Regions from separate parts of the Homo sapiens genome. Here all the other regions are reported to be linked to region 3. The links are microRNA targets in miRTarBase. Many come from high-throughput screens and were not tested one by one. Region 3 holds a microRNA gene; each other region holds the end of a gene's coding sequence.
Evidence for each region. The annotated mature microRNA hsa-miR-211-5p reads UUCCCUUUGUCAUCCUUCGCCU and lies in region 3 at 1,834-1,855, shown strand. An mRNA with a match to its seed (bases 2 to 7 or 8) in the 3' UTR can be bound and repressed. Matches are read on the target gene's strand: a 7mer-m8 pairs with bases 2 to 8, a 7mer-A1 pairs with bases 2 to 7 and ends in A, and an 8mer does both.

Region 1: the mRNA of HLA-DRB5 is a reported target of hsa-miR-211-5p. Seed matches in the 3' UTR shown: 8mer at 2,987-2,994.
Region 2: miRTarBase lists SEZ6L as a target of hsa-miR-211-5p. Seed matches in the 3' UTR shown: 7mer-A1 at 1,283-1,289.
Region 4: miRTarBase lists CACHD1 as a target of hsa-miR-211-5p. Seed matches in the 3' UTR shown: 7mer-A1 at 2,488-2,494.
Region 5: the mRNA of FZD8 is a reported target of hsa-miR-211-5p. The part of its 3' UTR that is shown has no 7-base or 8-base seed match.
Region 6: the mRNA of DNAJB5 is a reported target of hsa-miR-211-5p. Seed matches in the 3' UTR shown: 7mer-A1 at 2,975-2,981 and 7mer-A1 at 2,737-2,743.
Region 7: the mRNA of SHOX2 is a reported target of hsa-miR-211-5p. Seed matches in the 3' UTR shown: 7mer-A1 at 1,355-1,361 and 8mer at 2,103-2,110.

What each region holds. Positions count from the first base shown.
Region 1 is chr6:32,514,372-32,518,371 of GRCh38, forward strand. HLA-DRB5 (major histocompatibility complex, class II, DR beta 5) reads right to left here. Exons shown (of 6, transcript NM_002125.4): 5 at 3,683-3,706; 6 at 2,982-3,381. The coding sequence ends at 3,368. Among named protein-coding and RNA genes, the nearest start is that of HLA-DRB5, 14 kb to the right of the region's middle.
Region 2 is chr22:26,379,762-26,383,989 of GRCh38, forward strand. It overlaps SEZ6L (seizure related 6 homolog like), which reads left to right. Exons shown (of 17, transcript NM_021115.5): 17 at 505-3,835. The coding sequence ends at 534. Among named protein-coding and RNA genes, the nearest start is that of ASPHD2, 47 kb to the right of the region's middle.
Region 3 is chr15:31,062,824-31,066,949 of GRCh38, reverse strand. It overlaps MIR211 (microRNA 211), which reads left to right and starts at 1,809; the gene lies at 1,809-1,918. It overlaps TRPM1 (transient receptor potential cation channel subfamily M member 1), which reads left to right. Exons shown (of 28, transcript NM_001252024.2): 7 at 703-874; 8 at 3,658-3,832.
Region 4 is chr1:64,690,812-64,695,082 of GRCh38, reverse strand. CACHD1 (cache domain containing 1) reads right to left here. Exons shown (of 27, transcript NM_020925.4): 27 at 2,030-3,760. The coding sequence ends at 3,522. Among named protein-coding and RNA genes, the nearest start is that of RAVER2, 52 kb to the left of the region's middle.
Region 5 is chr10:35,635,561-35,639,831 of GRCh38, forward strand. It overlaps FZD8 (frizzled class receptor 8), which reads right to left. Exons shown (of 1, transcript NM_031866.3): 1 at 2,687-4,271. The coding sequence ends at 3,785. Among named protein-coding and RNA genes, the nearest start is that of MIR4683, 3.6 kb to the right of the region's middle. RefSeq lists enhancers at 894-2,754, 1,935-2,557, 3,244-4,105.
Region 6 is chr9:34,996,515-35,000,785 of GRCh38, reverse strand. DNAJB5 (DnaJ heat shock protein family (Hsp40) member B5) reads right to left here. Exons shown (of 5, transcript NM_001349723.3): 4 at 3,920-4,271; 5 at 2,358-3,760. The coding sequence ends at 3,527. Among named protein-coding and RNA genes, the nearest start is that of DNAJB5, 8.9 kb to the right of the region's middle.
Region 7 is chr3:158,094,691-158,098,949 of GRCh38, reverse strand. SHOX2 (SHOX homeobox 2) reads left to right here. Exons shown (of 5, transcript NM_001163678.2): 5 at 666-3,045. The coding sequence ends at 923. Among named protein-coding and RNA genes, the nearest start is that of SHOX2, 9.6 kb to the left of the region's middle. RefSeq lists an enhancer at 783-952.

The DNA of each region.
Region 1 (4,000 bases), not on the chromosome of region 3:
GGATGTAGTTTATCCATTTACTAGTTGCAGGACATTTGGATTGTTTTCAGTTTGGGCCAACTAAGGCAAAGCCTGTTCTGAACACTTGAACACATATCTTTGTGAGGACATATGTTTTTATGTCTCTTACATAGATTCCAAGGAGTGAAATTGGGGGGTCATATGGCGAACATATGTTAAACTTTTTAAGAAACTGCCAAATTTCCAGGTATTTGTAAAATCATACACTCCCACCAGCAACACATAAGGGTTTAGAAAGTCTGTCTTCAAACATAATTATAATGATGATGATAGTATTAGAAATAACATGTCTTGTTAATTTTATATTTTCTTTTTATGTTTCAATTTTTATTCAACCAGGATCCATTCAGTGAAAAAAATGAGTTTGGAATACAGCTTACCAAAAACTGAAACTAAATATCAACTCTTTCTGTTTCTAATTCTAGACTTTGTTTTACTAGCATATTTAATGAAAAAGAGAATCAGTAACAATGCATTTTTAGGCTCACACCTGTAATCCCAGCCCTTTGAGAGGCCGAGGCGGTTGGATCACGAGGTCAAGAGATTGAGACCATCCTGGCCAGCATGGTGAAACCCCGTCTCTACTATAAATACAAAACTTAGCTGGGCGTGGTGGCATGTGCCTGTAGTCCCAGCTACTTGGGAGGCTGAGGCAGGAGAATTGCTTGAACCCGGGAGGCAGAGGTTGCAGTGAGCCGAGATTGTGACACTGCACTCTAGCCTGGGGACAGAGTGAGACTCCGTCTCAAAAAAAAAAAATGCATTTTTAAAAATAAATGTATAGTATGTTTTACCATCTTACAGAGCTAGTCATTCCTTACTCTACTTTTTTTCAAAAATTTCCCTGGAAAATGAATTTACCTCATAAAATAACATGTCAGCATACTTGAATTCTAAAAACAATCCTTTTTGCTTGCTTTTTGGTTTTATTGTAATTGAGTTAACGGCTGACATTTCATACTCTCTCTCTCTATATATATATTTCTATATATATATTCCATATATATTCTATATATATTCCATATATAGATATTCCATGTATATATTCCATATATATAGATATTCCATGTATATATATATTCCATATATAGATATTCCATGTATATATATATTCCATATATAGATATTCCACATATATATATATATATATATTCCGTGTGTGTGTGTGTATGTGTGTGTGTATATATATATATATCTATAAAACGACCCAAAACCCTGAATTGAGGATGCCTATCAGCAATCTATAGGCCTTAATGTGGAATTTAACTACAAATACTAACAACCCAATGGTACCACAGTCTATCATTTCCCTACCCTGAAATCAATCTCTCCTACTCTAGCCACCATTTCTTTACTTTTAAAAATGTATGATTTTGCTCCTTTTCTTCCCATGTGTGTCAGGCCCACTCTACAAATGTTGAATCCAGGCTTGTCTGAGCCCATGTGATCCCACGGTCATTCCAATGTGTGAGAAAGTGGGTACTGGGAACACTCTGGAAACAGTTTAGTTGCTCCTTATAAAGGCACACAGGAGAAAGGAGTATCCTTTTCCTACCTCTGGGAGTTGCTGTGAAAGAATAAGAAACCTAAAGCTGCTGCAGGGGTCCTCCGACCATCGCAGGAAAGCTGACGTGCTGTGTATTAAGAGAGATGAGCGATGAAGTTCAGGATCGCTGGAGGTGCCACTGGCCAGCTGAGTTGAGCAATCCTGGAGACAACCAGCATTGGATCTAACGGCTATGTGAGATCATGGGTTAAAAAAAAATAAAGCCTGCTAGATGGGATTTCCTGCTATTAGCAGCAGAAGGCATTTTCATTGGAATACTCATCTTGGCCGGGCGCGGTGGCTCAAGCCTGTAATCCCAGCATTTTGGGAGGCCAAGGCGGGTGGATCACCTGAGGTCAGGAATTCAAGACCAGCCTGGCCAAAATGGTGAAACCCCATCTCTACTAAAAATACAAAAATTAGCCAGGCTTGGTGGCAGGCGCCTGTAATCCCAGCTACTCGGGAGGCTGAGGCAGGAGAATCGCTTGAACCCGGGAGGTGGAGGTTGCAGTGAGCCGAGATGGCGCCACTGCACTCCAGCCTGGGGGACAAGAGTAAGACTTTGTCTCAAAAAAAAAAAAAAAAGAAAAGAAAAGAAATATTCATCCCACACATTTTCGTTCTTCTTTATAATTCCACACCACAAGTCTCATATAAAATGAGACAAATCATTTCCTCAACTTAGGGAAGAAAGCCTATTTTATTGCAACTCTGGAATCAAACAGATCAGACATAATTATCAGCTTATTATATTCCTATAGGATTTATATTCTTACAGGATTTCTATGTACTTGTACATACCTACTATATATGTACAAGTAACATGCAATATAGCTAAAAATAAAATATGCATAAACATTGAATTTGATTGAAAGTAAAATAATTGTCTCTGACAGTAGAGAAATTATGTTCAAATGATTATTACTTTGAAATAGGCTTCTGCATTGATTATGTACCGTTTAGATTTGACATATTTGATACTGACTCTCAAAACACAATGGAGAACCCTCCATTTTCTAAATTTGTCATTCTCTGAAATCTGTACAAGTCCTTGGATAATATTGTATTATTGAAGTTTCTGGAATGAAAAATTATATGCAATTTACAGTTATGGATACGCAGTATTTAGAATAGGTTAAGGAAGAGTTCTGATTGACTTGCTAGCTGGTTTCTCATCTCATGTTGGCCAAGTTGTTTCAGTTGTTATAATCTGTTCTCAATTTTTATGCATTGCCTTTTTAAATGTTAGGTTTACTTTTATTGACAAGTAAAAATTGTATAGTATATTTATGTTGTACAGCATGAAGTTCTGATATATGCCTATAGTGTGGAATGACTAAATCAAGCTATTTAATATGTGCATTACCTCACATACTTATGAAATACATATAAAAACCATTATGCTATTAGGAAATAATCTTCCCTTTTTCTTTTCTTTTTATTTTTTGTCTTTGGAGCCAGGTGGACAGATGATTTTTAACTCTGGGCTTCAGAAAAATTTAATAACGTAGTGCATTTGTGGCACACAGGGGGAGTACAGATGCATGGGAGGCCGTAGGGTTAGGTAAAGGGGAGCACTAAAGTTGAAGATGAGGCACTGCCATCAATGCTGGGACTTCAGGCCAAGGGCAGGAGCTGAGGAAGCCACAAGGATGGACATTTTCTGCAGAGTTGCTGAACCGGTAGCAACCAGGGCCTGAGAAAGTCCTCTCTTGTGGAAGAATAAGAGCCAAGCAGGAAAGCTTTTCATCATGCAAAGCTGGGGCAGAAGGTTCCCCCTTGAATGTGGTCATCTGCACTTCAGCTCACGAGTCCTGCAGAGAGAGAGGAAAGTGTTGTTTTCAGACCTGGTTCCACTAACAGCTTCTTTTCCTCTCTTTCAAGGACTCAGATGAGAGCACTGCAGGAAGAAGAAAAACAAGTTCCTAAGTCTCCCTGAACCAATACTCCTGCAGAGCACAGGCCTAAGTGGAGAGGAGGAGTTTTGGTATAAATTGCCTGATCAGGAATTTGGATCCAAAGTCTTTCCTGCTATTTCTGTCTCATGCCTTATCACCTCTGCCATCATTCTAGGAAAACTGAATCTGTTTCTAAAAGAGGATTAAAAGGTATTACCTGTTGGGTGAAGTCCAGAGTGCCCTGGGAAAAAGAGGAAAAGATATACACTTAAAAGGTATGGAAGCAAATCTATTCTCCCAACACAATGTCCTAGTCCCAGATCTCCCACCTGAGATTTCTCTAACACCACAACCCACACCAACCAGGGCAGAGAGGAGCAGAAACAGACCATGTGACCCATGAAGCATGACATGTCTGTCACAGGATCCAGTGTAATTGCATTAGCCTTAGTGGCTCTTCCTTAATTTGCTCCAGGATTTCAAACCAAAGGACCCTTAACTAGTTAACCTTTCTCTTATCTCTGCAGGCCACAAG
Region 2 (4,228 bases), not on the chromosome of region 3:
TAGAGACTAGACATGAATGAATACTTATTAGTAGAGTGTATCAGTGACCTAGAACTATAGTAATGCTGAGTAACAAAGATCTCTGAACTCAATGGCTTAATGCAACAAGCATTCATTTGCTCATCAGTCTGTGGGACAGCGTTTTAGGCTTATTTCAGCTGGATGGTAATCCTGGCATTGGCTGGTTGATGGATGGGTGACTCAGCTCTGCTCTGTGTGTCCTTCATTTTCCTGAAGAGACTAAAGCCTACCAGGGCATGCCCTGTTCTTGGTGATGACAGATAGACAGGATGTGAGCAGAAACACACAAGCATGTTTCAAGCAGCTGTTGTACGCCATTTCCTTATAACCCATTGGCAAAAGCAAATCAGGGTCAGAGTGGGAGGGCACTGAAAAGTCACGACCAAGGGCATGGACATACAGAGGTGCAAAGAACTGCATCCCCCTATGTATATCACTCTACCACACAAGCGTTTGACAAATCCGTGCTTCTCTCTCTTGCAGGAAACCAGAGAGTATGAGGTTTCTATCTAAAGAGAGCTACACTTGAGAAGGGGACTTGTGAACTCAACCACAATCTCCTCGAGACATTCATCCAGAGACCATGTGGCACTTGATTGAAACCCCAGAATGTCGACTGTCTTTTGTTTAGACTCTTTATCAAAGGTTTACTGTTTTCTTCCCTGTATTTATTATATTTAAAAGTGAAATAGGTGTGGGTTTGGATGTTTCGCGGCCTCAGCCAAATTCATGTTACAGCCTCAATTCTGAAGGCAGGTGGAAGACTTGCAAAATGGCAAACCGCGGCAGCAAAAACACAAAACAGCAGATGGAGTTTCTCCCATCAGCAATGCCATGCTAAGGCTGCATTGAATTGCATGCATCTTTGGGAACCATGCCCATGATGTTTTCAGTACAAATCTAAGTCCCAAGATTAGGTTGGAAAGGGTATTTCTTGTTGGCTTAGTTTGGGTTGGAATTTAGCATGGGTACTTAAACCCATTTGGAGAGCTGTGCTCCTAAACAAATTCTGTGTCCTCTCTTCCCATTTTGCCAGCTTCTGAAAGGTTTTTCCACAGCCCCTCCCTCTCACGGTTCTTCTGAAGGTAGCAAAGGTGTTATATAAACATTGTCTTTTACCACTCTGGCCTCGCTGGACAGTGACAAAACAAGAAAACGTTTTCTTTCTAGAAAGGTGATAAACGACCAAAGGCAATTTTTCAGAGACAAATGAGAGATTTGAGAGTTCCAATGAAGAATTGGGTGAGGGGGATCATTGGGTAAGGGAATTGGGTTAAAATGTTCTTTTCTTTGACACTCTTTCAATGATGAAAGAGCGTGTAATTTATGCTACAAGTGCCAGAATCGATCACCATGTTCAGCAAGCCACTCTCAAGCTGTGGTAATAAACACACAGGCTTGGGAGGCACCAGCGGCCCCACTCATACAGTGACAAGGATTTGTGATGGGAAAAAGGAGGTGCCATGTTTGGAAATGCAGGGGTGAGCTCTGGTTTCTCCTGGGGTTCTGGAATATCTCAGCCCTCAAAATAGAGGAGACTCAAGTGCACTGATTCTCTAAAAGGTGTCATCTTCAGAATATACTTGCCATCAAGTATTTCAGGGGGCGGGAGGGTCCCATGAGAAGAAACTATTTTTCTATTCTCCAAAGCTGTCTGGATGTTGGAGGGTGGTGTGAATGCTGACTGAGGAGGTGCAGAGAACAGGGGCAGGGGATTTTAAATCACAGCAGACCATCCAGTGGAATCCTGTATCATCTGATCTGAACATCAATGAAGACAGAGAGAGGAATTTCATTCAGAAAGGATTCCATAGCCCCACATCTAGTCACACGGGCATTCCTCTTATTTTATCAGGGTCTGTTTTCCCCCAACCCAGTGAAACCGGTGAGTGTGTAACTCTTGGGAAGATTCTTTTCTAAATACAGGTATAAAGAGAAGGTGGAGGGTGCGGGTGCATGGAAGAAATACTATGTGTGAAGCAGATTCACCTTCCTGGGACCGGTGACATGGTGGTGACAGTCAATGGCTTGGACAGACAGACGGGCACAGTGGCATTTGGAACCCTCTTTGGTGCCCTCCCATTCTCTCTGGAATTGTTTCAAGTCTGCTGGTTTTCAAACAAGAAAAGACCTTTCTGGCCATAGGGAGAATAGCAGGGAGTCTATGTTTTGGTGGTTACATTGGAAACATCTTAAGCAAGATAGGGAAAGTTGATTTTAGGCACACATGTACCCTCCTTGACAGCAGGAACTCAGACTTCAATCTTGGGGGTCTAAGACCAGAATATTTTCCTTCTGCCAGAAAAGAATCTTGCACATATACTCCTGAAGGCATGAGTGTGTGGTCCATGGCAAGAAATAGCTAAAGGCTGCTTTCCAGGACCCAAAGCCCCATTTAATGCAAGAACCAGAGAAGTGTTCTAGGCCATTAGTGGACAATGTCATGTTTGGAGAAAGATAACAACACAAATAATGTAACCTTTCCTTAAAAGGCAGAACTCAATCCATTTTATTTGATGCTTATTCTAACCCTAACCCTGGGTCACCTGGAATGAAGAACTCTATGAATAATATTTGATTTTACAACGTGTTATGGTTATGTGAAAACTAAACATTTGCCTTTTATAAAGACTGACAAAATATAAATCTTTATTCTAACCCTATCCCCAAAACTAGCCAGGCCACACCCCAGATGTTCTTATTGACTATTGGAAAGATAGAAAAGGCGTTGTGTTTTTTGTTTTTTTGTTGTTGTTGTCATTGTTGTTTTTTTCAGAAGACCAGTGTCTCAGTTCTGTCTTAGTAGTACCACACCCGTAACCGTGTTTTAAAAGTTTGTTTTAGCCTAGAGACAGATCATACGAGTTCAACAATGTACAGTGTGATTGAAAAGACAGGTTGGTGTCTATTTTTCTTTTTAAAATATCTGAATGTGTATTTGTAATACGTAAAGGTAAAAAAAAATAGTGCCAAAAATGTGCAAGGCATCTCATTACAGCTCATGTACGTCTGTTTTTATAAGATCAATATTAAAACCCATTGGGATTAAATATTTTTGAATAGGATACACTCTTGAGAAACTCGAGAATGGACTGAGCCTTCCTACAAGCCACTCTTTGTTTTTAAAACAGTGGGGAAATACGTTTACAGAGATTGTGAGCTTCAGAGAATGCATGTGATGGTGTGTATTACATGCTAATTCATATAAGCTGTATCTGTCAGCTACCACCCTGTGCTTTAAAAATGCACACACTCAACCCTCTTTAGCTTGGAGCTCAGCTTTTTGCTTTTTTTTTTTTTTTTTTGTAGAATTATTTAGCTAACATAAGTATTCTGATTGCTACCTGATGGCCATTCTTACTTAGTTTCATAGATGTGCTTTAACTATGATCCTTTGAAGCTCACCCCTTGGAGAGCCTACAGAACCTCAGGCTGATAGCTTTGAAGACTGCCAAACAGCCCAGAAGGAAGCAAAGCATCTGCATAATCAGGAGGGTTGTATAACAAGTAGTGATTTGGCAAATATGTGGGTAGCTTTAGGCTGAGGCACGGGCCTCAGGCAAAAATGCCCTTCGAGTGAATCCGAAGGGCATGATCTTCCTATGTCCTTGACTAGGCATGACGAGTCATTTGAGGTCAGATATTATTTGAGTTGTTCAGCACCCCCAAAGGTAGGCATTCTCCTGGGAAATTTTCATTTCCATTTTATCGCCAAACAAAATAAAAAGCAAAACAAACTTTCTAAGCTAGAATAATGAAATTAAGTCATTTTCCACTTTGTATATATTGATGCTAATAAAACAGATGAAAAAGACTCAAGTGTGTAGAATTTTTGTTACAGACACTTCAGGATGGCACCAAGTGGAATGTTTCCAGTTTCTGGGGATTGGGTTGGGGTAACACCTACAGATACTTTGAATGCTAAGACAGGACATCCCACTCTGGAATGGTTCTGGGACCTTCAAGGGATGTTTGGGACAAGATGGGTTTGACGGCACTGCCATCTTCCAATGTTCCACCATCCTCCCTCTCTTAGCTCAGCCTGTCATAAGAAAATACCACAGACTAGATGAATTAAACAACAGAAACCTGTTTCTCAAAGTTCTAGAGGCTGAGAAGTCCAAGATCAGGGTACCAGCCAATTCAGTTCCTGGTGAGAGCTCTCTTCCTGGCTTATAGATGACCTTTTTGCTGTGTCTTCACACAG
Region 3 (4,126 bases):
TTCCCATTCCTCCAATGGTAACATCTTGCAAAACCATAATGCAAGATCACAACCCGGATACTGTCATTGATAAGGTCAAGGTGCAGAATGTTTCCATCAACACGAGGATCCCTCCTGTTGCCCTTTCATATACATATACCTCACTCCTTCCTACCCCCACCTCTTCCTTAACCCCTGGAAACAACTAATCTGCACCACCCCGCATTTCAAGAAGGTTCTGTAAATGGAATCATACAGTAATGTAACCTTTGGGGATTGGCTTTTTTTTCACTCCACATAGTTCTCTGAACACGCGTCCAGGTTGCCATATGTATTGGTCTTCATTCCTTTTTACTGCTGGCTGACATCCCATGATATGGAGGCACCAGTTTCTTTAACCATTTGTCTGTTGAGGAACAGTTTGGCTGTTACAAGTAAAGTAGCCATAAACATTCCAGTGCAGGATTTGAGGTTAACATAGGTTTTCATTTCTCTGTGATAAATGCCAGGGGTGCAATTGCTAGGTTGTCATTATCTAAAACAATTAACTTTCTTTCTATTTTAATGTAACAATTGGCAAAAATAAAACCTTCAAAAGGCAGGGTAGAGATGTGAGAATAAGTTTTAGTGCAGTCACTCCACACATATGTATTGTGCTTGCTTCCCTTGTTGGTCTTAACATCCAAGTCCTGCAGGTCTGATTTGCGCTGTGCACTTTGTCAGGTAACAAGAGTGTACCAGACCATGTCCAACCCTCTAAGTAAGCTCTCTGTGCTCAACAACTCCCACACCCACTTCATCCTGGCTGACAATGGCACCCTGGGCAAGTATGGCGCCGAGGTGAAGCTGCGAAGGCTGCTGGAAAAGCACATCTCCCTGCAGAAGATCAACACAAGTAAGTGCTGGCAAAGGCACGCAGTCCTCCTGGGCTGATGCCATCACAGTGGAAACAAGGCTGAGAAGGAGATTGATTGCCCAAGGGGATTAGAAGATTAACCTTGCTTCTTGTTAGGTCAACAGAAAATGACTCACCTAGATGTCTTACCTTAGCCACCTACCAAATCACATTCACTGGGCTACATGGGGATGCTTTGCCCCAGGTTCACAAGTTAGCACGAAATAACCCTCAGTGCTCGCCATGGTGATGGCCTTGCCCACCCTGTTGCCCAGTGGTTCTTGTTCCCTGTAATTAGTTGTTATTTTTTAAGTGTTTTAACAGGAAAACAATTTCTCAAAGATTTAGTAGGATTCTTTCTATTTGCTGATAAGTATTATGTGATTATTAAATATCTCTGTAATGCTGGGCCTTTCATGTAGACTAAGATGGCCAGGTGGGGACATATCTGGAGAGGGCTGCAGGAGCCATCTGCTCCTGAAGGGGCATCATCCTTGCTGGTCCTGAGGGGGAGCTGTCACTGTCAGACGAAAGCTGAGGTCGAACTAGAGAGAAAGACGCAAACCTCAACCAGAAGAAACAATGATAACAACTGGTTAGAATTACAATAACTGGTATAATCTCTTGGAGCATGTTTATACTCCAGTAATTCTTAACGTCAAACAATTGTTAAATGATCTGAAAGAGCAGTTTGTTTTTCCCATTACTGGCAAGATTTTTGTGGGAGACCATCTAGTCCTGGCGAATGGTCATTGGGAATCATCATGTATGGGACTGTGATGCTGCAGAGTGGGTAGAATGGGGATGGCCTACTAGGAAAAGTTGTAGATTTCCGAGAATCAGATCTCGAAGAATACATTGGTCGATGACTGAATGTTTTTTGTTCTCACATCTCTAATTTTTCTGGACTTGTAAGTTTTTACAACACCCCATTTCACCTGGCCATGTGACTTGTGGGCTTCCCTTTGTCATCCTTCGCCTAGGGCTCTGAGCAGGGCAGGGACAGCAAAGGGGTGCTCAGTTGTCACTTCCCACAGCACGGAGCTTCGAGGACTCCAGCCTAAGCCAAGAAGAACCTGTTCTACTCTGTTGCTCGAAAAGAAGGTGATTTGGCCACCATATTCCTAAAGATTGAAAATATCAATCCTTGCTTGGGTTGGAAATCTCAAAGGCGGAGTCCAGGATATCTTAGTTCATTTTTCCAATATCTCCTGGTCAGGGCTTTGCACAAAGCAGACCCTCAATGCATGTCTGCTGAAATGAACTTAGCTGTAATTACTCTGGTGGACACAGCAGAGTTATTCAACATATGTAAGAGTCCCTGACTGTAGAAACACCTCATGGAAGCAAATTAGAAACTCTGAAATGGCTCATTTGAAATTCTCCAATCTTCTCTTAACCAATGCTGGCAGATTTTTATCTGAAGCCCTTCAGAGCTGAGACCAACGATACTTCCACTTGCCTTTAGTTAATATCGATCAACTAATTCCCATCACAACTAATGGACAGCTGGTGAAATAGGCTCAGAGTGTGATCTGTCATGGCCAGTGTGGCATAAAATTAGGAAGTAGGCAAATGTGCCTCCACTCCCATTTCCTTCCCATTCCAGAATCCCAACTTCCTGGAATCTTCCTGCCACCTCTTGCTTCCCAGAGCCATGCCTGCAGGTTCTGCCACCAAAAGTTAGTTGGTACCCACTGTGTTCTTGAAGAGTCCTATTAACTGATAGAGACAGAGGGAGGACTCTGGGAACAGGTCATTAACTGATGGGCCACTAGTGGTCCAAGTGGCTGCGTCCAAGATCTGCACTTTATTCCAGCCACTGAAGACAGAAACGTCAACAAGAACAGTGTACCTCATTTGTATGCTACTTAACGTTTACAAAATTATTTGCTAGCCAAACACATATTCTGATATTTTTACAACTGCAGGAGTTAAAGGAAGCACTGTGATTGTTCACCTTTTACAAATGGCTGTCTAAGGCTCTTGGTGATTTGGTGATTGGCCCAGTGTCATAAGGGAGAAGCCAGGAATTGAACTGCAATTTCCCTGGCTGGTCCAGATCCCCTTTCATCATCTTATTCTTCAGGGACAGCCATCAGGGTGGGAATTTCAGACCATAGGCTAGGACAGCCAGGGGGATATTTTTCCAGCCAGGAATACCTTCCAATATTTCTCAGTGGTCACCTTGAAGTAGCCCCAACATCAGGTGGGTGGGTTATTCAGGAGTTTAACCATATGTGAGTCAGAAAGTTTCAGACTTTGAGGTCCTGGTTTTCCCAATGAGGCCATAATATGTGACAGAATGCAAGAATGATAACTGGGCTGGGCACAGTGGCTTACACCTGTAATCCTAGCACTTTGGGAGGCCAAGGCAGGTGGATCACTTGAGCCCAGGTGTTTGAGACCAGCCTGGGCAACATGGCAAGACTTCATCTCTACCAAAAATTAGCCAGGTGTGGTGGCATGTGCCCATAGTCCCAGCTACTCAGGAGGCTGAGGTGGGAGGATTGCCTGAGCTGAGAGGGAGGTTGAGGCTGCAGTGAGCCATGATCATGCCACTGCACTCCAGCTTGGGGGACAGAGTGTGATTCTGTCTCAAAAAAGAAAAAAGAAAAGAAAAGAAAAAGAAAATTGTTATCACATGCCTGAATTCCTTCCAGCCAGATAGAACATCCCCCAAGTCGTAATGTTTTTACTCTTCCCCATACTTCAGGAGTTAAAACGACTGGGTGGACAGTGCAGGGCACAGGTGGTATGGGCGAATGTGGTTTGTGTTGCAGGACTGGGGCAGGGCGTGCCCCTCGTGGGTCTCGTGGTGGAGGGGGGCCCTAACGTGGTGTCCATCGTCTTGGAATACCTGCAAGAAGAGCCTCCCATCCCTGTGGTGATTTGTGATGGCAGCGGACGTGCCTCGGACATCCTGTCCTTTGCGCACAAGTACTGTGAAGAAGGCGGGTAGGATTTCTGACGCGCGAGGAAGGGCGGGTTCGTAACTCCCTCTTTGTCGGGCCAAGGAGAAAATCTAAAGTGGTCTGCTTAGACATTCCAAACGTGTTTAAATCAGGAAGATTTGCTAGATCTCCTCTCCCATTTCCTCAGGTCAGCATCCAGGGGAACCATCAGAGGCAGGGTGTTCCTGATGGAATTCTCTCTCCCTCATTTCCAACTTCATTTGCCCTTAGAAAGTTTGCAACAAAGCTGGAATTTAGGACAAGTGAGAATACGATGTTTGACTATGGTTACTTTTTG
Region 4 (4,271 bases), not on the chromosome of region 3:
ATAGTTCCTAAGTAATAGATACGGAAACTTAAAATTCTTTTTAACTAAAACATTAGAAAAAAATTTCTGAATATGGCATTCTATCTCAGCCAGGAAAATCACTACTCCTGTCTTCTGAAACAGACCAAAAGGAACATAGATGAGACCTGGCTGGTATGGGTTTTTGTTTTGTTTTGTTGTTTCATTTTTAGAAAGGGTCTCACTTTGTTGCCCAGGCTGGAGTGCAGTGGCGTGATCTCAGCTCACTGCAGCCTGGACCTCCTGGACTCAAGCAATCCTCCCTTGAGAGTAGCTGGGACTACAGGCATGTGTCACCATGCTTGGCTAATTTTTGTATTTTTAGTAGAGACCGGGTTACACCATACTGGTCAGGTCAAACTCCTGACCAAGTGATCCACCCGCTTCAGCCTTCCAAAATGCTGGGATTACAGGTGTGAGACATGGCACCTGGATCCGGCTGGCATGTTTTAAGAATATAATTATTTTGCCAGATATAAATTTTTAAAAATGTGATCATTAGGATAGTCCATCGCCATGGGGAAATGAAATTGTGGTATTTCAGGACTTCTTTCCACATAACAGTCACTCTGAGAGGCAAAACAAGTTCATATTGCCTAAGTTTTTCAAATATATTATCAATGAGGTTTAGTTGAGTATTCAATCAACTGGAGGAAAAAACATACCCTACAGTATAGTTTACAAAATTTCTAAAATAAACCTATCTGAAATGCAGATGAACTGTATATACCATGAGGACTAGCATGAGCCTGAGCCACGTTTTCCTTGGGCTACAATAGGACATTTTTTTCCTAGCTATATAAAGTGACCTGGAATTTCCTTAGCTTTGATACTTACCAACATTGATAAGCAATGTTGGTTACTGGCAGCAGGAGGCTTTGGTGAATGAAAAGATATTGGTAGGACCTCCTTCAGGATCTCAGGGAAGACTCATGTTTAACAAACACTGGTAACTGGCACCATGATAAAAAGTCTCTGAAAACATATTTTTCCTTTTAAACAATGACAACAAATGTTTAAATGACATTATATGTAACCCTTGGATTAGATAAAAGATAATTATAGAGGATCAAAACTTCAGCCTATATGTCATATTTCACAGGATCTTTAAAACTCAGCAATGTTTTGGTTTAGGTATAAACATTCAATTACTTTCCCCTCAAGTTCGGAATAGGAAAAACTCTTACCACAAAAGATACAAAATGGGCCGGGTGCAGTGGCTCACGCCTGTAATCTTAGCACTTTGGGATGCCAAGGCGGATGATCATTTGAGGTCAGGAGGTCGAGACCAGCATGGCCAACACGGTGAAACCCAGTCTCTATTAAAAATACAAAAATTAGCTGAGCCTGGTGGCAAGTACCTATAATCGCAGCTACTCAGGAGGCTGAGGCAGGAGAATCACTTGAACCCAGGAGGCAGAGGTTGCAGTGAGCTGAGAGATCATGCCGCTGCACTCCAGCCTGGGTGACACAGCAAGATTCCATCTCAAAAACGAAAACAAACAAAAAAACCCAAAAGATACAAAATGTATTCTGTTATTGTGTTTCTATAGGGGTACCTATTTCATTTTTAAGCTCTAAGTTTTGTGATTCTTTTCTTGAAAGCACCAAGTTTCCACTGCACTTCTCCCTCCTCAATCAATTTCCTAACACAGAGTTTCTCAACCTTAGGAAACAAACTAGTATCCCATGAAGAAGTTTAATTTTCTGGGAAGGCAGGAAACTCATTTAATCCTTCTAGCAGTTAGAGAAGAACCATTTATTATTAGTGACATGGATATAGATGCTCAGGAAGGGATAGCTATGTTCTATACATTTTTATCCCATTATATTGTTAAGTTGTTTGCATATTTGATCTAGATGGTCAAGAAGCCCTAGAAGTTGACTGTAGCATTGAAAGGAGGTCTATTTTCAGTTTGGCAACTGACCTGGCTAGGTTACAAAATGAATGTAACTTGCCTTGAGGCACAAGGAGTGGTACATTAACAAATCACTGTAGCCACTAAAATGGTCCATTGCATACGGTTTATTTCACTAGATTGCAATTTTATACACAGTATGAAGGGGTTTCCTGATAGCACATATATAGTTTACTTTCTGTACTGCTGAAGAACCAATTGTTTTTTACATTGTATCATAATACCCTATCATTAAAACATTATTCAGTGAATTTTTTCCAACTACATATAAACGGAGATTTACCACACACATTCTTTACCATGGTGCAAGAATGCCTTTATAACATATTTGAATCACAAAATGTGAGTCTAAAATACATCACTGTAATTAAAACACTACTTTAAAGTTACAATGCCCCATGTTATAGTAGCCAGATTTGATTAATCCCTGTATAAATCACAAAGCAATTTGGTGGATAATGTCTTGGCTAACTGGCAGCAGCTTTTAACCGTGATATTAAAAAAAAAATTCTTTAATTAAGAACCAGACTTTCACAATTTAGAAAACTTCTTCCCTTATATGTCAATATTCTCAGTCAAAATGGGATATTTAAAAATTTGTAGTCTCTAAAACAAGGAAAATAAATCCAACCCTCCCTTAGCTGAAAGGATGCGGTTCTAACATTAGGTTTCGTAGAAACCTAAGAATAGCATTGTACGAGGAGTGGAAACAAGTCATAAGAAACATAACATTTCTTTTAAAACCTCTTAAATTCCTCTGCCCCTCCCCATCTCTGTCAAACACAGAGAAAGAATACTGCATTACAAACAAAGATGTGTTTCCGTGAAATGATGTAAACAAGTCAGAGAGAAAGATTTCTTCATTTTCCTATTTTGTGGAGTGGGGCAGTGGGATATCAGTTAAATAAGAAATAGAGCTCCTTAATCAAAGAACCACTTCATTACACACAAAACAGCTCGGGGCAACTGCTGAAAACTTCTCCTGTGTTTCCTTTCCTTTTCCCCAAAGTTTGAGAATGTTTGAAAGTTCAATAAATAGTAGAAAAATAATCCTTTACTTAGAAATTCTGAGATGCATCGTTTAGAGCATAACATGAGTTCCATACAGCAACTGTGGTATCCAGGTACCGCTAAGAAACAAAGCGAAATCTTCAATGCACACATTTGTATCTGCATGTGCCACATTCCAGTCTCTGGGTGAGCAGATTTTTCTCTCTTCCAGTTAAGGAGAGCTGAATGCTTCTGGCTCTTTGGAACATTCCTCTGGCTCAGCTTCACTTGCAGGTTCCGTCTCTGTGTTTGGAGGTTCGCCTTCTGTTACCTTCCATTAGTGTTATGGCAGGTCTGTTCATCAGGCTTATTTCCCCTCCATTTCAGAACCAGCCTCACATCTTCACAAATGTGACTGTGTTGTTGTTTCTCTCGTTTTTAACCATGTCGACAGGCAGGAAATGACTCAAACAACTCTGCACAAAGCACAAACACAAGGGAGGTCTCTTGCTGTGGGTTTTAAGCCGGTTCTTTTTCTTTCCAGAACATTCTGTAGCTCCCAGATCTCATCTTGGCGTGGAGGTGAGGAGATTGTTAGCATTCTGCATCGACAGTGTGTACCGTGACGGCCGCCTGTAAGTGGTGGCTATGATGAAGTGTAGGGTGGTGTGACCGGTAGTGGTGGAACTTGTGACTTAGTAGGGCAGCAGTCTGAGGGGGGGTATCCAGGTCTAAGTCCTCATCATGGTTTCCCACATCGACCCCGGCTGACAAGGGGTCATTGTTGCATGGAGGATTTTCACTGTCCTCCTGTGGGCTCATGGTGCTGTAACCTAGAAAAAGAACAAAACAAACACACAGCTGAGAGCTTCAAGACGCAGACAGAAGATTTCACCTACAATTTCTAGGGCACTGGGAGGTATTCCTGTCTTTGCAATACATAGGTGCAAACACTGGCAGACTGTCAGCAGATGCTAAAGTAATTTATTTTTAAAGAGATTTAGTGATAACTCTTTTTTTCCCTTAAAAAACAATGACACAATAAATACATAACCACTTCAGACAGCTGAGAAAGTACAGAGGAGAAAAAAAAAATAAACAAGAACCCTTATCCCAAATCCCCAAACCAGCAACACAAAAATGAAAATCACACTACATCCCATCATCCATGGCGAGCCACCACTGGGGACCTATCTTTCTACACTTTTACCTATGATAAAGATAATCTTTTTTATTAAAGAAATCCAAAAAATGGACAGCTTCAAGAAGAAGATCTGAACAGGATTCAGATCAACTGGGGCTGGTGCGGAAATCTGGGCTTCCGCCTGAATGCCTGAATGTGAC
Region 5 (4,271 bases), not on the chromosome of region 3:
ATGTTTGCAGGTCCTCTGGGCGGAGGCTGTGCCTGTGCCTAGGCTAGCTCTCCATGTGCTATTTTTGAATGAATGAATTGAATGAAGGAACCTCCCTAACTTCCTGGTTCTGGGACCCCGTACTACCACCAGATGGCAGTATAGTATCAAATGTGGAAAGCGGATAGACACTTGCACTGATTTGCTTTTTATGTCTCAACAGAACGTTTGCACCTACACTTTAAATTGCATCCCGTGCTCTGCAACTGCTCCTGGTTTTCTTTTGGCAAGACAATCTCACTCTCTTTGCCCAAACTCTGAAGTATTACAGGCACCAGCAATGCGGTCAGTGCAGGTTAAGAAACTGTAATGTGCCATGGTTTACTCCTTAAACTTTCTTATCAACTTTTTTCCCTTCTGTTTCATGGTACTTTCAAATTGCATTTATTATAAAGCAAATAGAAAGTGTTTCACATAACTTCTCCCACAAGCAATTTTAATGAGCTTTGGCTTTAGTAATGGTTTTAATCATGTTAGACTTGATCTTCTAGCCACACAGCAACCACATCAACCCCTCTCCCAATTTGACAAGATTTTGAAAAACTAACACTTGTTTTATGTAATTAAAGACACACCTGTATAGCACACAGAGGTGTTCATTTGTCTAATGCAATTGGCCAGATAGAGACTCGTTTCTTTCTTCCACCCTAAAATCAATTTTGGGGTTTTGTTCCCTTAGTAGATACCATCTGAGTACTGGCAAATATGCAACTCAAGTTTTAGCTTTAAAGGCAAAGAACCAGCACTTATGTCTTAATACCATCTCTAAAATCAGTCTCTAGTGATGACAGATGCAGGTCTTTTTATTGAGAACTGTCCTCAGAATTTAAATTGGGTTTTTTGTCAAATAAGTTCGCTTAAACACACATACATCTTGAGTTATCGAATATAGCATTTTATAATGATATATTGAAGAATAAGGTAAAAAGCTTCAAAGCTGGACATTTTCCCACTGTGCTATATAGTTGAAAATGCGTCAATAATGACAATACTGCTACATGAGAAAGCCAACATGCTAACTTGTGTCTTGTAGCTTTCTCTCCATCCTTCATATGTGGTAAAGACTCTGGGATCTGCTCTCAAAATTCTACTTTATAACTGAATATAAAAAGTTTATGGCTGGCATATGTATACTATACATGAGTCAACACGTGGGTTAGATGTAGGCCACTGATAGGTACCTAAGTTACAAAATAATTCTTTAATGAGTAAAACTACTGGAGAGGTGAACACTTTTACAGTGTCTCTGGCTTTAAAAAATAAGATTGGCATGATAGCTAAAGCAGGGGTTCTAATTGCATAACTTAATTAACACCGAGACTTACTCTGAAAAGGATCTGCAAAATGTTACTACTATGGAGATCCTATGCGAAGCCTCTTACATGAGAAAGATCGGCCAAGAAAGTAGCGTCCACTCTATTAAAATTTTTTTTAGCCACTAAAGATTCCTATTAGGTAAAGTAAGGAGAACAAACATTTTAGCAGGATGTGCAGAACAAAGCCCCTCCCATCCCACAATGATTGATGCCCCATCATTAGCAGGGTAGCTGCCCATTTCTTATCTTGATTGACAGGTTAATAAGGGACCTGGGGCTATCTTTTCAGTATTAACACACAATCTTACCAATTACTTTTAAATTATTGCTAATCTGTCAGAAAATAACAAGCATAAGGAATAAAAATATCCGCGAAACAGAAACGTCTGCTGAAGCAGCTTTTACTTCCGGTGCCTTAAAAGGTTCAGTTAGAAAACTTGCTAGAATTTAGTCAATAGAATTTAGGCACCGGCAATTTTTTTAAAGAAAAACTTGTAGTTTATAATAGTTCATTGGTTCAATTAGGAGCGAAAAAGAAGGGAGTTTTGTAATGCAATTGTCCAGCAAAGGAAAACGCTTTAAATTGGGGGATTATGTGCGCAGACCACCTGTGGGGCATTCAGAGCCCTTTTCTATAAAGCTTCAACCCATGCCTAGCTGCCTGCAGGCTGGCTAACAATGCCGGGAAAAGCTGTTTAAAAGGCTGAGCACTTGTGCCTCCGGTCTTCACTAACTGTTACAAGTCTTCCTCTCTCGCGCTCTCTCTCCTTTTTAAAGTAAAAGTCCCACATCCCTTTAATGGAAGAACTTTAAGGCTCCGCGGTGGCCAATTGGTCTGCACTAAGAGGAGATAGGCAGCAGGGAAAGAAACTTCAGACTATACAGCACATTTGCAGAGGAGAAAAGATCAAAGTTTTTCAAACTCAAAAGACCAAGTTCCCTACAGATTAACCCTATTCATTTAGCTCCTCTTAAAGGAATGATGTGCTGAGCCACTGGGCAGACAGGTAAAAAGTTCAACAATTGCCGAAGCATTCTTCTGCTAATTCAACAGCCTTCTGCTCAAATAAATTAGCTTAGTCTTGACAGAGGAACAATAGCTTTTTCTCTAGGAAAAGCAGCACATTTGGTATACACAAGCACTGAAGGTTATTAAGATGTTAACCCGTTAGTTTAATCCATTGAAGAGCGCCTGCTCCCCTACCAGATTGTCAAGTGACTTCTACTGTAAAGGGTGAGCTATGGTTTAAAACATTAACCTCTACACCTCAGCAATGCGTTCCCTCCCTGGAACACCAGGTGCTTTCAAAATCACGGACTCCAGAAATGAATGCAGGGTTTTGAAACCTTTAGTGATACCATGCAGGATAAATAACAAGGCCTAAGGGGAATTACTGCCTTGCAGAAGTTCCATTTACATCCACTAAAGTGAGAGTTGTTATCCATGGATCAGAAAAGAGCTCCCATGAAAAACACCGTCTTTGGGGAAGGTGCAAAAACTCAATTTTGATTTCAGTTCAACAATGATATTTACTTGGCTAACAACTTAAGAACTAGAGTTTAACAAGTAATTTTCTCCATGCCTAAGGTCAGTGTACAGAATGACAAGCCAGAAAATGTCCATTTTCCCCATGCGTCCTTAGCAAGCACTTTAAAGGTGACAGCTCAGAAGAGGCGGGGGAGAGGGCAATGGTTAAATCATTTATCAAAAGTCATTTTATTGACAAAATAGAATACTTATATCTGTTCTTACAGGGGTAAGCCTCTAAACTTTTTACAAAAAAATGTACACACTATATCTTTGGATATATACATATTTTACACTTTTTTTTTTACAATTTAACAAATAATTATATAAATACATCCTCTAATGTAAGAAACCCGTATTTACGTGGGGTGTATAATTAAGACATTTCTTGTTTGTTTACTTAAGGCATTTGCCTGGTCATTAAGAATACCCAAACCGTGCAATCCCATCAGGTGGCGGTCACCCCTCCTCCAGGGTAAGTCAGGGGTGGGAGTTTACGTAGGAAGAGTCGAGGGAGAAAAAGAGGTTCTCCCAGGTGAAATCTGTGTATCTGACTGCAAACCCAGCCAAGTGCAGCCAGGGAGGGCTCCAAATCTCGGGTTCTGGAAACGCCGCAGAGTCCACCCTCCTCAGCCAACAGAAATTAACGCGTGGCGGGAGGAGCTCCCCGCACATCAATGGAGGAAAAGGGGCTGGGTCTGGGAGGCTTCAATGCCAGGTACTTTGTTCTAAGTGAGTCATTTAAGTCCCAGCTAATGGATACCATTAAGAGTTCATTATCATGCTAATAGCAATCAACACTGTGAAGGGGTGGGAACCTCAGCCCATCAAGTGTCCCTTCGCTGCACTTGGCTCTCCTCGCCCCCCTCCCCACCCCTCCTGGGCGCCCCCTCCCCTCCGCTCAGACCTGGGACAATGGCATCTGCTTTGGATAAGACACGGAGCTCGCCGTGCCCGACCGCCACGTCAGGCCAGTGCTGACGTCGCTGTAGAGGGAGCCCCCGCCGCCGCCCGGCCCCCCGCCGCCGCCGGGTCCCCCGCCGCCGCCGCCCCCCGGCCCGCCGCCACCCCCCGCGGCCGTGGCGCCCGCGCCCCCGCCCACCGCGGCGCCCTTGCTGGCCCAGCAGCAGCGGGTGCACAGGGAGCGCCAGGACTCCAGCGTCTTGCCGGACCAGACCCACACGCCCGAGGTGATGCCCACCACTAGGCACATGAAGTACTTGAGCATGAAGACGGCGTAGTCGGGCCTGCGTGCCTGGTCGGGCTGCAGGTCCCGCAGGCACGGGCAGTTGTGCGTGGCCTCCCAGCGCGGGCGGTTGTGCTGCTCGTAGAAGAGGCAGGCGACCACCACCGCGGCGGGCACGGTGTAGAGCACGGTGAACAGGCCC
Region 6 (4,271 bases), not on the chromosome of region 3:
GGTTACACAGGCATCACAATAGCAGAAATTCCTCATGCAGTCTCTAAGAAGGGTAAGGTTCAAATTGCAGGTAAGGTTGCAGTCAGCCTTAGGACTTTCTCATTGAAGTGTCCCTTGCCTCAGATAGCCTTGCTTCTAGGCTCTCAAAATCCTATTCCCGGCTGGGCGCGGTGGCTCACATCTGTAATCCCAGCACTTTGGGAGGCCAAGGGTCACCTGAGGTCAGGAGTTCAAGACCAGCCTGGCCAACATGGTGAAAACCCGTCTCTACTAAAAAATACAAAAATTAGCCAGGTGTGATGGTGGGCGCCTATAATCCCAGCTACTTAGGAGGCTGAGGCCAGAGAATCGCTTGAACCTGGGAGGCGGAGGTTGCGATGAGCCGAGATCATGCCATTGCACTCCAGTCTGGGCAACAAGAGTGAACTCTGTCTAAAAAAAAAAAAATCCTATCCCCAGAGTGTGCTCAGCAGGACATGATAATTTCCCAGGTCTTGTGTGTCTACACAGAGGCCAAAGGGAGCAGTTTGGCCCAGCAGACCAGAATCCCAAATCTTCAGGCCTCAGGAAAAATCCTGGACAAGAATTTAGCCACAAGTCAAGAGAGAGGCTACCCTAGGAGCCCCAAAGGAGGAGAGCATTGAGTAGGGGATGTAGGGTGCGGGCATCTCCCTGCTCAGGCCAGGGGATTAGCAGATACCCTTGTAAGCAAGACCCCCTGGTTTCTGCACATTTTCTCCTTTCGAACGGGGTACAAAAGTACCTCAGGTGAAAGGATGAGGAGGTTTTTTTCAGTGTCTTTATTGTGGGGAAAAAAGCCAATTAGTGTCAGCTTAAGCCTGGCCCAGCTAAAGGCAGTGCTGTCTGGATAGTACTGGGGACACTGGCACTCAGGAGGGCATGACTGTCATGGGCCTGATCCTGGAGAAGATGTGGGATTCATGCTCAAAGTCAGCCCCAGGAGGATGTCCAGGGCTAGGCAGAGCCCGCAGATGGGCATTTCTTCAACTATAGGGCTCCTTCTACCCAGACCGCAGGAAAGGGACAAGTGCCCCCTCATGCAGCCACCACTCAGGTCCTGAGGGCCAGAGTTGTCTCTGTAGACACAGGCAGGTCAGAGGCCAGGACAGACATCCCTAGATAACTGAGATTTGAGGATTTGCAGCTGTGTTCAGTGCTTCTCAGGGAGCCTGTGTCCATAGCCAGGCCTCACCAGCGTGGGCCAAGGAGGCCAGGTACCTCTGGCTACCCTCTCCAATGTCCAGGCTCTGTCTTTTACTGCTAGCCACCATGAATATTATATAGTACTATAAGTGTTTAACTGTACATAGCACATATGAAAGCACTTTTCACAGCTATTGTTCATAGAACATGCTTATAAGCCAGAACCATAAAACCTTAATTATAATACATCAACTCCATACTTCCAAAGAACATACCTTCCCACAGGAATATCGACCAGTACTTTTCATCGTACATTCAGTCGTTCATCGTACATAGCACATTACAGTCAAATAAATCCTCGTCACCACAGATATCCCCCCCCAGATAGTGGTTTCTCGCTCACCATCCTCCGTGAAATCAATATCCTGCACAAGAGTGCTACTCTCCTCACTCCGGGCCCAAACACTTGGGGGTAGCTCTTCTAGTCAGCCAGAAAGTCCTTCAGCCTCGCCAGGAGCAGTGGCTCATGTTTGTAATCCCAGCACTTTGGGAGGCCAAGGCAGGCGGATCACTTGAGGTCAAGAGTTTGAGACCAGCCTGGGCAACATGGTGAAACCCTGTCTCTACCAAAAATACAAAAATTAGCCGGGTGTGGTGGTGCATGCCGGTAATCCCAGCTACTCGGAGGCTGAGGCAGGAGAGTCGCTTGAACCTAGGAGACAGAGGCTGCAGTGAACCAAGATCGCATCACTGCACTCCAGCCTGGGCGACAGAGCAAGACTCCGTGTCAAAAAAAAAAAAAAAAAAAAAAAGTTCTCCACCCCCTCCTAGAAAAAAATTTTCTCCTAGAAGGAAAATTTGTCTGACTCAGAGAAAATTTAGACAAGAAGAGAAAATCTGTTTTCATGCTAGCACATCTGAAGACAATGGTCTCTGTCTCTCATGAGCAGGGATATTTTTCCTTCCCAAATAGATGTTTCTTCTAATAGCTGAGTGGTACTTTCTGTCTGTGCTGTGTTTGAAGTATAAGTTTTAGAAATCCCAGGAGGCTTCGAGGAAGGCAGAGGTCAGCTTCAGCTTATACTGAGGGCCTGCTTGGGCTTCTCAAAGGTGACCAGAGCCCGGGAGGGAGGATGACAGTGGCCCTCCTCAGCCACCCCCATCCCAGGTTTGTTGCTCCTGCTCAGATGCCATATTTTTAAAATACTTTATTTTTTACATAATACTGTCATTACAAAAAAATACAAAAAAACTACTATAAAAACATTCGGGGGTTGTCAAAGTGAGAAAACCTAAAGACCCCACCCCAGGATCTGGCTGAAGCAGTCTTCCCCCAGCTTCTTCACTATGACCTTTATACAACTATGGGGGTGGGGTGGGATCACACAGGCATAAAAGGGCTGGAAATTCCCCACACAGCCTCCAAGGGTAAGAAATGAGTAGCTTCACATATCACAAAAGTGGGATTTGGAAGTTTGGGGGTGGCTAGGCCCTGAGTTCAGAGGTGTGGGGAAAAACCTGTGACCCTGAATCTCTTGGTGGGGAATAGCTGCCACCTGACCCCAAAGCCCTTTCCCTTCCTGATGAAGGCTGGTAGATGGGCCCTGTCCCCCACCTCTTAGCCTTAATACCTCAGGCCCCATTCCCTGCCCTCCACCCTTGAACACTCCTGAGAGCAGCAGGGAGGACAGAACCTCCAGCTCTGCAGGTGTAGGCAGGGCAGCTGTTACGGAGGCTGCTGAGGAGCTCACCCCCCTGCTCCAGATGAAAAGTGTCTCGTGCTCAAGTCCCTGTTCACAGGTTGTGAACTTTCCCTTCTTATCCTCTCTCCTTTCTCCCAGAGAGGCACAGACAGCTCTAGGTGAGTGCTTCTTGTGCATGAATATGTGTGCCATTACCTTGGACACTGTGGACCTGGGGGTGGGGCTGAGAAAGCAATGTCCTTTCTAGTCTTTTCCACCCCCAACAGCAGGAAGCCAAAGGGAAGGGAGGGGACTGGTATTAGCAAAGCTGAGGGGAGGAGGACATGCTATGTACAGGCATGGATAAGGAATCTCTACATATCTTCAAGTAGCACTCAGGTCACTCTCCAGCCACTGCAGTGGAAACTGGATTGAAAGCTAGTGACATGAACATTGACCCCTGGCCTGGGCTAGCTCTCCCCACCTCCCTCCCACTCCCCCCAGGCAGCCCAGCTCTAAAAGGGGTCAGGGACAGGAACATTTTCCTGAAAACCAGTGGCTTTTTTTTGCATTTTAGAAAAAGTTGCCAGTGTCCAGTGGACATCAAGCTGGGTGCACATTGAGTGGAGTGAGTGTTGGGGGTATTGCTGTGGTAGGCTCTGGACTGGCTGGGGCAGAGCCTAGGAACAGGGTAGGTGCTGCTTAAGGATCTGTCTTGTCTGTGGTGTTAATCTGTCTGGGAAGCGAACTTTGAACTCAACAATGAGGTCTCCTCGCTGAGTTGGCACTTTGGGGAAGGGAAGGCCCTCCCCACGGAGTCTCTTCACGGTGCCTGGCTTGATGACATCATTGCAGGGCAAAGGGATCACTCGGCCGTCGATAGTGGGAATGTTCACAGTGCAGCCACACAGCGCCTGGGAAAGACGAAGCAGAAAGTGAGGAAAAGGTGGGGTAAGGTGAGTGGGAAGGAAGGAAATAGACTGAGGTGGGGAAAGAATGTGCCAGCTGGCGGGAAGAGAGGGAATGTCCCCACCATCTCCCCAGCACACACACACAGCCTGACTAGGCCCCACCTCCTTGAGGCTGATCAGGGCACTGTAGAGCACGTTGGTGCCATCTCGGCGGAAGTGTGCATGGGGCTTGTCTTTGAGCACAAAGACGATGTCAGCAGGGATGTTGTCAGGTGTGGCGTCGCCTTCTTTGGGGAAGGTGATCTTGGTGCCTTCCTTCCAGCCACGCTTGATGACTATGTGCAGGATCTTGTCCTCGGTGCGCACAGTTCGCCCATCAGGGTTGAGGCGACGCCTTGTGATCTTCATGCGCTTGGTGGAGCCATGGTAGATCTCCTCCAGGGACACCCGCAGCTCGTGCACCACTGGGGGGTCCTGCACCTTGCGCCGAGGGTACAGTGGTTCTGGGGCTCGC
Region 7 (4,259 bases), not on the chromosome of region 3:
GGTGACTTTAAAAGGAGACCTTTACTACTCAAAAGGTAATCTTTGGGCCAGCAGCAACAACACCGTCTGGGAGATTGTTAGAAATTCAGAATCTCAGGCCCCAACCTAGACCTTGCGAATCAGAATCTGAATTTTAACGAGATCCCTGGGTAATTGTTATGGCAATAAAGGTTAGAAGTACCGACTCACAATTGTGCCTATTGTGGTGAAGATGGAGTAACTTCCCTGAATGACATTAAAAAGTTGCGTAGTTTGCTTGTTGATACTCCGTTGTTTTGGTAGTGGGGTAAGAGATGCATGGCAGCATCAAGAGAAGAGGGTAAGGGTCCTCACCCGCAGTCTTTCCAATATACCATTTCAGCCCAGTTCCCAGGGGAGACGGCCACATTCCTGCAGAAGGGGGTTCCCGGGGTCCGGGGAAATAAGCCTACCCTAAGCGAGTTTCGGAGACCCAGGGGACACTGGAGTATCCATGTGGAACCCCAGATTCAGCAACAGGCTGAGAAGGTCACTGTCGGAACAAGATGCACAGCCAAATGCCCTCTCCCCGTGCCCAAACACAACCCAACTCTCTCTCTGGCCAAGCTGGACGCCGTTAATGCTCTGTTTCTATTCTGTTGTCACCCTAGGATAGTCATTGCAACGTGACGCCCTTGTCCTTTCAGGTTCAGGCGCAGCTGCAGCTGGACAGCGCTGTGGCGCACGCGCACCACCACCTGCATCCGCACCTGGCCGCGCACGCGCCCTACATGATGTTCCCAGCACCGCCCTTCGGACTGCCGCTCGCCACGCTGGCCGCGGATTCGGCTTCCGCCGCCTCGGTAGTGGCGGCCGCAGCAGCCGCCAAGACCACCAGCAAGAACTCCAGCATCGCCGATCTCAGACTGAAAGCCAAAAAGCACGCCGCAGCCCTGGGTCTGTGACGCCAACGCCAGCACCAATGTCGCGCCTGTCCCGCGGCACTCAGCCTGCACGCCCTCCGCGCCCCGCTGCTTCTCCGTTACCCCTTTGAGACCTCGGGAGCCGGCCCTCTTCCCGCCTCACTGACCATCCCTCGTCCCCTATCGCATCTTGGACTCGGAAAGCCAGACTCCACGCAGGACCAGGGATCTCACGAGGCACGCAGGCTCCGTGGCTCCTGCCCGTTTTCCTACTCGAGGGCCTAGAATTGGGTTTTGTAGGAGCGGGTTTGGGGGAGTCTGGAGAGAGACTGGACAGGGGAGTGCTGGAACCGCGGAGTTTGGCTCACCGCAAAGCTGCAACGATGGACTCTTGCATAGAAAAAAAAATCTTGTTAACAATGAAAAAATGAGCAAACAAAAAAATCGAAAGACAAACGGGAGAGAAAAAGAGGAAGGGAACTTATTTCTTAACTGCTATTTGGCAGAAGCTGAAATTGGAGAACCAAGGAGCAAAAACAAATTTTAAAATTAAAGTATTTTATACATTTAAAAATATGGAAAAACAACCCAGACGATTCTCGAGAGACTGGGGGGAGTTACCAACTTAAATGTGTGTTTTTAAAAATGCGCTAAGAAGGCAAAGCAGAAAGAAGAGGTATACTTATTTAAAAAACTAAGATGAAAAAAGTGCGCAGCTGGGAAGTTCACAGGTTTTGAAACTGACCTTTTTCTGCGAAGTTCACGTTAACACGAGAAATTTGATGAGAGAGGCGGGCCTCCTTTTACGTTGAATCAGATGCTTTGAGTTTAAACCCACCATGTATGGAAGAGCAAGAAAAGAGAAAATATTAAAACGAGGAGAGAGAAAAATAATATTAACACAAAAAAATGCCACAGACAATGATTTCTCTGAGAAATTATTATGGCAAAACTGTCTGGACTGCTGACAGTAAATTCCGGTTTGCATGTTACTTGTATTCCATTGATGGTGTGTCTCCTCCCACCCCCTTATCTCCCATGCACTCACTCCATTTTCATCTTCACTATGAAAAACAATACCAAAAGTATCTGGAAATTGATATATATATATCCATATATATATATCATATATTTGCCATATATATATATATATATATATATATATATATATATATATATTTGCCCTGTCTTTGATCCTGGGGAACAAAAGAAAAAAGTCAGAAAGGGAAAAAATTACACTCATTGTCCTAAGAAGACAGAGGTGGGCAGAATATGTGGGGAAAGGAAAAAGAAAACAAGACCACCAAATGAAATAATGAAGGTACAGCGCCTCGCTGTGCCAGACACAGTAGGCGCTCAATCAGTATTAGTTCCCACCATTCCCCTTTTCTTGTGTTCCTTCTTGTTGGTTTCCTGAAGTCCTATTTGAAGACAGTGGTTTATTTCCCCCTCTCTATCCCGTCAAATTCACCTTAAATAACACCCAGCTAGATACAGGCACTAGGTTTGTGTAAGATATGTTGATACACACGAACAAAGTTTATTTTGACTATAATGTGTGGACTGACTTTCAACATTTGCATTTTATCTCACAAAGGTGTATCTATTCAAGTAACCTTTTTTTTTTGTTTGTTTGTTTCTTTTTTGTTTTTTTTTTTCTTTTGGTTGTTTGTTTCAATTCATGTAGCTATTTAAACTGGGATACCTTGGACTAAGCCAGTCTGTATCCCAATTCGCTAGCAAGCCTAAGTTTGTGGGGTTTTGTTTTTGTTTTTGTTTTACCTTCTAATTTACAAGAAAGAGGAAAAGCTCTTCTAACTGAACTTTGGTATGCGGTTGAGCTTTGTAACTATTTGTTCTCCATGAAAACAAAATTATTTATATTTGACATATTTTTTTCTAGTGTATTAAGTTATTTTAAACAAAAGATGTTATCTCATGACGTGTTGTCAGTACAAAATGTGTCGCCTCCAATTCTGTTAAACCTTTTAAATAAGTGCCAAGTTATTAATTGAAGACACTTTGCGATCAATTGAATGAAAATATCGTTTCATTTGATGGGGTTCGAGTCATCTTTGTTCCTGTTACTATTAAAATATCCGGGATAGTCTTTCCCTTTTGATTAATGCGTATCACTCTCTCGAATATACCAACTTGGAAAAGCGCTTGCCTCTGCTCTTACGTGCCGCAGTCAAGGGGCAGTAAGAAGGGTGGCTCTGTGGCTGTCGTTAGCGCTGAGCGCATTTCCGCCGGCCCCCTCCATTTTATCCACCCAGCATAGAAACAGGGTTATACCAAATTAATGAAAGAACAGATAAGAAGTAAAATAACATAGGATAGAGTAACTTCCTTCCCCAAGATGGACTCTCGTTATTCGTTTTGCTATAATTCCAGTCTTTATCTGGGGACACTTTTGGGAGGAAGGAAGGAGGGATCCTGCGGAGCGAAATCAACCTGGGTTTGGTATGGCATAATCGACAATCAGTCCCAGTTCGTTGACCCTCTCTGGAGCGGGGCAGGTGCTGACTTCGGAGCGGGAAAAGAGCCGCAAAGGCGGGCAGGCCAGGGCACTGTGGAGGGAGGATTCCCCATCTGACACTCCTGTTTAGGGTTGGCTGAAGCAGCTTCTTCATTGGTTAAATTTAGAAGGTGGAAGCCAGAATCGGGTTTAGGAAAAGCCTGGCCTTGAAAATAATGAGGAGCTCTCTCTCCCCATGTCGTGGCCCCCTTCTGGAAGAAATCCCACTAGTAAAGCCCAAAGGTGCTGCCTGTGTGGGGATAGTTGGAGACTTTGAAGACTCGGCCCTGACCATGTCCAAGGCAGGAACTTTCCTTCCCGCGCGGGCTCTTGTGATGACGGGACCTTCCGCAAAGACTGAAAGAGTCCTGAGCGTCCCCTGGGACCCCCCACCCTCGTGCTGGAGGGTGCGTAAAACCCCTGCCAAAGCCCCACATCCTCCAGCAGTGTTCCCCACCACCCCCACTTGGCCCTCTCCCAGGTCTTAGCTCGTATTCAAAGCTGTTCCTCAGCATAGACGTGGGCGATAGGTTTCTTTCTTTTAACTTTCAAAGACCACTGAACAGGATTTGGGCCGTATTCAGTGCGCAGGCCTTGCGGGTCTCCTGGTTGATGAACGTCGGTAGTTTTTAATAATAAACATCTGCCTGCGGGCATGGTACGCCCTGAAGCAGCCAGGCCATCCGCCGTGGTCCTGTGGCCTCCAGCGAGCTCCAGTCGGCGCCGGGGCCGGGGGTCCTAACAGGCAGGCTCCAAGCTCCAAACCCTAATCCTAACCCAGATCCCAACACGGGTTCGGACCCTGGAGACCCTGGAGCAGGGGAGATGGTGGCTCCCTCTCGGGGCCAGTCTGCCCCAAG